Regions from separate parts of the Homo sapiens genome. Here region 1 is linked to region 2. The links come from fine-mapping of genetic effects on gene expression. A gene starts in region 2. The other region holds a variant in brackets. All regions are shown on one strand. Distances are from middle to middle.

Region 1 (2,896 bases), 30 kb before region 2:
ATGCCAAATTGCATGCTGTGTCTTTTAACCTGGATTGCAGGCCACAAATGTTTTGTAAACATTTTACGGGAGAAAAAACCGAGATAGTTCTAAATTCCATACATCCATTAGCTTAGTTTTTCCTGTGGATTGGGAAAACCCGGCTCTGATTTCATTTCAGGGTGGGACAGCCCTTGGTGCACTGTCTGGCGGGATTTTGCATTTTATCCTGATGCTTCCAGGAGCAATGAAGGGAAGGCAGGGGGCTGGAGGCGCCCCGCAGGCGGGTACGTTCCCTGCTGGCCTTAGCCCCAGCCCGCCTCCCCCAACCCCTGCGGGAGAAGACCCCCAAAGGGGAGGAGTCGGGCCTGCCCCCTCCCCCGAGCACCTTCCGTCTCCAGGTCGGAGTCCCAATTGGCCTCGGGACCCTGCTCGGCCTCGGGGACCCCTGAAAGACGCCCACAGGCCACCATAGCCTCTTCTTTCTGCTCTTCATCCTCCCCAGACCTCTCACAGGAACCCCTCATGGTTACGACCCTCTCGCAGTCTCAGACACTGAGTCGGAGACAGCTTGACCCCGCGCCCAGAGCGCGGCCCGGGATTGTGGGCGGAGTCTGCGGCTGCGCTGACCAACCGAATGTGCCGTCCAGCAACAGGCACCCCCCACAGCCAATAGCGACGCGCTCTCCCGCGGCGGTCGCCCCGGCAACCCGGTGTTGTCGGTTGCCGTAGAAACTGTGGCCGGCTTGTGCTGAGGCTCCTCGCCCGGGCTGATACACTGCATGCGCCACAGACCATGCACCGGATTGGGCGCCTTGCTGCGTTTATCCCCCTGCCTCCCCTAGGCGGTTCCAGCATCGCCCCCCTTTCATGGAATGGGAAACATGCCTGACTCCAGAGCTTGTGTTTTCTTCACTGCACTTGGGAATGGCTTTTCAGGAGGGCCTGGGGAACTTCGCAGAGCCAGGTCACCCTCTCACTCTGTGGCTCTCAGTTCTCTTGCATGCGCTGGCCTTTGCATACGCTGTTCGCTCCCCTGGGAACCTCCATCCCCATCTTTGTCTGCTTGTTGAACTTCAGAATCTGCAAGCGTCAGCTCAGAAGTCACTTATTCCTGAAGCTTTACTCAGAGCCCCCCCGGGGCTGTTGCTGCCCTCAGGCCGTCTTCTCACAGCACTGATAACAGCTGTCCTTCCCCATCCTCTCACCACGTCCACTCCCACCGGAGGAAGTGAGGCCAGAGGGCAGGGACAGAGCTGCTGTTTTCTGTGTGCCACCAGGGCCCAGCAAAGAGAATGTAGGGAGGGTGGGAGGTGCAGGGCAGCTGGGGTTAGGGGCTGAAGGCTGGGTGTTGGAGGCTGGATCCTGCTTTAGTGGAAGTGTCCCTTTAACAGCGGCTGGCGTGGCCTGGCTCGGGCCCTGCTTTGC[C/T]TCCTGTTCAGCTGCGGCTGCAGCTGCCATGCTGACTCATGTGCCCGCAGCTAGCAGGAGCTGGCAGCATGGGCTCCCCAGGGGCCACAGCAGACTAGGGGCTTCTGGATTATAAAACGGAGAAGTATGTGATGACCAGGAACTGGTGGGGGGGCGCCCTGCAGAGGCTGCTGCAGTTTGGGATCGTCGTCTATGTGGTAGGGTAAGAGAGAAGAGCTTTTGGCCAGGCTGGAGGGGCAAGGGAAGAGGTCGGGGGTGGGGCTTGGTCCTGCTGGGTTGAAGTTGAGGGTTGGGCTGTTTAGGGGCTGGAGGGGAAGGGGCCATAATGGGACGGGGTGGGAGGTAGGCAATACAAGACAGGAGAGCAAGAACAAGCTGTGTGTTTGTCCTGTGTGTCCACCTGCCTGCTTCCCAGTCCCTCCCCACGGCCCCACCCAGGGGGCACAAGACATTGTCCTTAACATCTGTGAGAGCTGGAGCACTAGGCCCCCAGAGAGACCACCAGCTATATCTCCGGTCAGGGGAGTCTATAAGCTCGGAGCTGGGTCTACTGAGGCTGGGGGTGGGTGCTGGCTAGTGAAGGTGATTGTCTGAGGGCACTGGCTCTCTGATGCATGGCTGGAGCTTCTGTCTCGTTCAGGGAGTCTACAGTGGGAAGTGGGGCCAGAGAGGATGCTGGACTGGGAGCCTGTAGGGTGTGGGGAGAGAACTGAGCATGTAGGGCCCAGCTCTGCCCCGTCACTACACGCTGGGGGGACACCACACTGCCCATCTTCTCCTTCCCAGGTGGGCGCTCCTCGCCAAAAAAGGCTACCAGGAGCGGGACCTGGAACCCCAGATTTCCATCACAACCAAACTCAAAGGGGTTTCCGTGACTCAGATCAAGGAGCTTGGAAACCGGCTGTGGGATGTGGCCGACTTCGTGAAGCCACCTCAGGTGGGGGCCCTGATGTTGCTGACGGGGGCGCAAGTCCTTTCCCCACTGACAGCTTGAACACCCGCCATGCAGCCAGTGTGTGCGAGAGAGAAGCATGTGATGCCAAAGGTGGCTGCAGGTTCTCAGGAAGGGCTTCACAGAGGAGTGGCACCTGAACAGGACTTTCAGGGATGTGTAGGAGGTTTCTGGTAGAAAAAGGGATGGGTTGAGAAACCAGGCCAGAGAAACTGCATTTCCGAAGGCTGCCAACAGAAAAGAAGGGAGTGTTTGAGACTAATGGCTTGAGCTTGAGAGTGGTGTGGGAGGGGTGTGGTGGGGCCAGGGCGTGGAACTTCCTGTAGCCCTGCTCCCTGACCTGGGGCACCTCGGTCAGGTGCTCCTCCTCCACCCTTCTCAGCTGCATTTTCCTCTTCCCTCCACCCAGCTTATCCACAGCCTTAACTTCCACCCACCTCTGCTCCTCTGATTCCCAGGGTGTATGTAGCCCCAGTGAACACCTGCCCAGAGCACAGCTGTCTTCCAGGTGCACACTCATATGTCCAAAGATCAATT
Region 2 (2,896 bases):
GCTGGGATTACAGGCGTGAGCCAGCACGTCCAACCCTGGCCTGGCTTCTTGAGTGGCCCCTTTTTCCACCCCAAAACCTCCTACACATCCCTGAAAGTCCTGTCCAGGTGCCACTCCTCTGTGAAGCCCTTCCTGAGAACCCGCAGCCGTCTCTGGCATCACATGCTTCTCTCTCGCACACACTGGCTGCATGGCGGGTGTTCAGGCTGTCAGTGGGGAAAGGACTTGCGCCCCCGTCAGCAACATCAGGGCCCCCACCTGAGGTGGCTTCACGAAGTCGGCCACATCCCACAGCCGGTTTCCAAGCTCCTTGATCTGAGTGACGGAAACCCCTTTGAGTTTGGTGATGATGGAAAACTGGGGTTCCAGGTCCCGCTCCTGGTAGCCTTTTTTGGCGAGGAGAGCCCACCTGGGGAGGAGAAGTCGGGCAGTGTGGTGTGTCCCCAGCGTGTAGTGACAGGGGCGGAGCTGAGCCCTACATGCTCAGTTCTCCCCCCACACCCTACAGGCTCCCGGCCCAACATCGAAGGCCCCACCTCCTCTCTGGCCCCACTTCCCACTCCAGACCCCCTGAATGAGACAGAAGCTCCAGCCATGCATCAGAGAGCCAATGCCCTCAGACAATCACCTTCACTAGCCAGCACCCACCCCCAGCCTGACTAGATCCAGCTTCCCCCTTACAGACTCTCCTGACCCGAGATACAGCTGGTGGTCTCTCTGGGGGCCTAGTGCTCCAGCTCTCACAGATGTTAAGGACTATGTCATGTGCCCCCTGGGTGGGGCCTGGGTGGGGGCCTGGGAAGGAGGCAAGTGGACACACAGGACAAACACACAGCTTGTTCTTGCTCTCCTGTCTTGTATCGCCTAGCTCTCCCCAACCCCGTCCCAATCTGCCCCCTTCCACTCCAGCCCCTAAACAGCCCAACCCTCAACTTCAACCCAGCAGGACCAAGCCCCACCCCCCACCTCTTCCCTTGCCCCTCCAGCCTGGCCAAAAGCTCTTCTCTCTTACCCTACCACATAGACCACGATCCCAAACTGCAGCAGCCTCTGCAGGGCGCCCACCCGCCAGTTCCTGGTCATCACATACTTCTCCGTCTTATAATCCAGAAGCCCCCAGCCTGTCGTAGCCCCTGGGGAGCCCATGCTGCCAGCTCCTGCTAGCTGCGGGCACATGAGTCAGCATGGCAGCTGCAGCCGCAGCTGAACAGGAGGCAAAGCAGGGCCCGAGCCAGGCCAGGCCAGTTGCTGTTAAAGGGACACTTCCACTAAAGCAGGATCCAGATCCAGCCTCCAACACCCAGCCCTCAACCCCTAATCCCAGCTGCCCTGCACCTCCCACCCTCCCTACATTCCCTTTGCTGGGCCCTGGCACACAGAGAACAGCAGCAGCTCTGTCCCTGCCCTCTGGCCTCACTTCCTGGGGTGGGAGTGGAGGTGGTGGGAGGGTGGAGACGGACAGCTGTTATCAGTGCTGTGAGAGGAGGGCCTGAGGGCAGCAGCAGCAGGGCGGGGAGGGTGTTGAGGAAAGCTTCCGGAAGAAGTGACCTCTAAGCTGACCCTTGCAGATTTCTGAAGTTCGACAAGCAGACAAAGATGGGGATGGAGGTTCCTGGTGCAGGGAGCAGCGTATGCAAAGACCAGAGCATGCAAGATAACTAAGAGGCACAGAGTGAGAGGGTGACCTGGCTCTGCGAAGTTCCCCAGGCCCTCCTGAAAAGCTGCCCCCGCCACCTTCCCCAGTGCAGTGAGGACAACACAAGTCCTGGAGTCAGGCGTGTTTCCCAGTCCACGAAAGGGGGGCGATGCTGGAACCCCCTAGGAAGGCAGGGAGGATGCCCACAAGGCGCCCAGCCCAGTGCATAGCCCGTGGCGCGTGCAGTTTATCCTCTCAGGCGAGGAGCCTCAGCGCAGGAGAGCCACGGTTTCTACGGCAACCTACAGCACTGGGTTGCCGGGGCGACCGCCGCGGGGGAGCGCGTCGCTAATTGCCGTGGCAGACGCCAGTCGATGGACGCCACACTCGATTGGTCAGCGCAGCCGCAGACTCCGCCCACATCCCCGGGTCGCGCTCTAAGTGAGGCGCCAAGCGGTCTCCGCCTCAGGGTCTGAGGCTGCGAAAGGGGCGTAACGATGAGCGGTTCCTGCCAGAGGTCTGGGGAGGATAAAAAGCAGGAGGAAGAGGCGACGGCGGCCTGTGGACGTCTTGCAGGGGTCCCCGAAGCCAAGCAGGGTCCCAAGGCCGATTCAGACTCCGACCTAGAGACGGAAGGTGCTCGGGGCAGGGGCCAGGCCCGTCTCCTCCCCTTGGGGGCTTCTCCCGCAGGGGTTGTGGGAGGTGGGCTGGCGCCGCCGAGGAGGCAGGAGACCTCTGTCCAGCAGGGCACGTAGCCCTCTGCGGGGCGTCTCCAGCCCCCTGCCCTCTCCTCGGCGCTCCTGGCGGCATCAGGAACTTTACCATGAGAAGGCGCTTCTAGAAGGAGGTTAAAATGGAAAATCCCGCCAGACAGTGCACCAAAGGCTGTCCCGCCCTGAAATGCAATCAGAGCTGGGTTTTCCCAATCCACAGGTAAAACTAATATAATGGATGTATAGAATTTAGAACTACTTCCGGTTTTTTCCCTGGGGAAAATATTCACAAAACATTTGTGGTCTGCAATCAGGTTAAAAGACATAGTGTGCCATTTGTCATCAGACAGGTAGAGGCCTGACTCTGGCAGGATTAGCTACCACTAGCTGTGAGACTTTATGTATTCATTTATTAGAGCCAGGGTCTTGCTCTGTCACCCAGCTTTCAGTGCAGTGGCAGGATCATAGCTCACTGCATCCTTGAACTCTGCACTCTGGTGAGCCTCCTGCCTCAGCCTCCTGAGTCGCTGAGACTACAGGGGGCTAC

Evidence for each region. PIP is the estimated chance that this variant, and not a neighbour inherited with it, causes the effect.
Region 1: its variant is fine-mapped to the expression of P2RX6 in fibroblasts (GTEx, PIP 0.90).

What each region holds. Positions count from the first base shown.
Region 1 is chr22:21,043,597-21,046,492 of GRCh38, reverse strand. LRRC74B (leucine rich repeat containing 74B) reads right to left here and starts at 547. Exons shown (of 10, transcript NM_001291006.2): 1 at 368-547. The coding sequence starts at 506. It also overlaps the pseudogene P2RX6P. The variant C/T (reference allele first, on the strand shown) is at 1,408.
Region 2 is chr22:21,013,455-21,016,350 of GRCh38, reverse strand. P2RX6 (purinergic receptor P2X 6) reads right to left here and starts at 1,186. Exons shown (of 12, transcript NM_005446.5): 1 at 1,013-1,186; 2 at 259-409. The coding sequence starts at 1,176. It also overlaps the pseudogene TUBA3FP. RefSeq lists an enhancer at 2,157-2,306.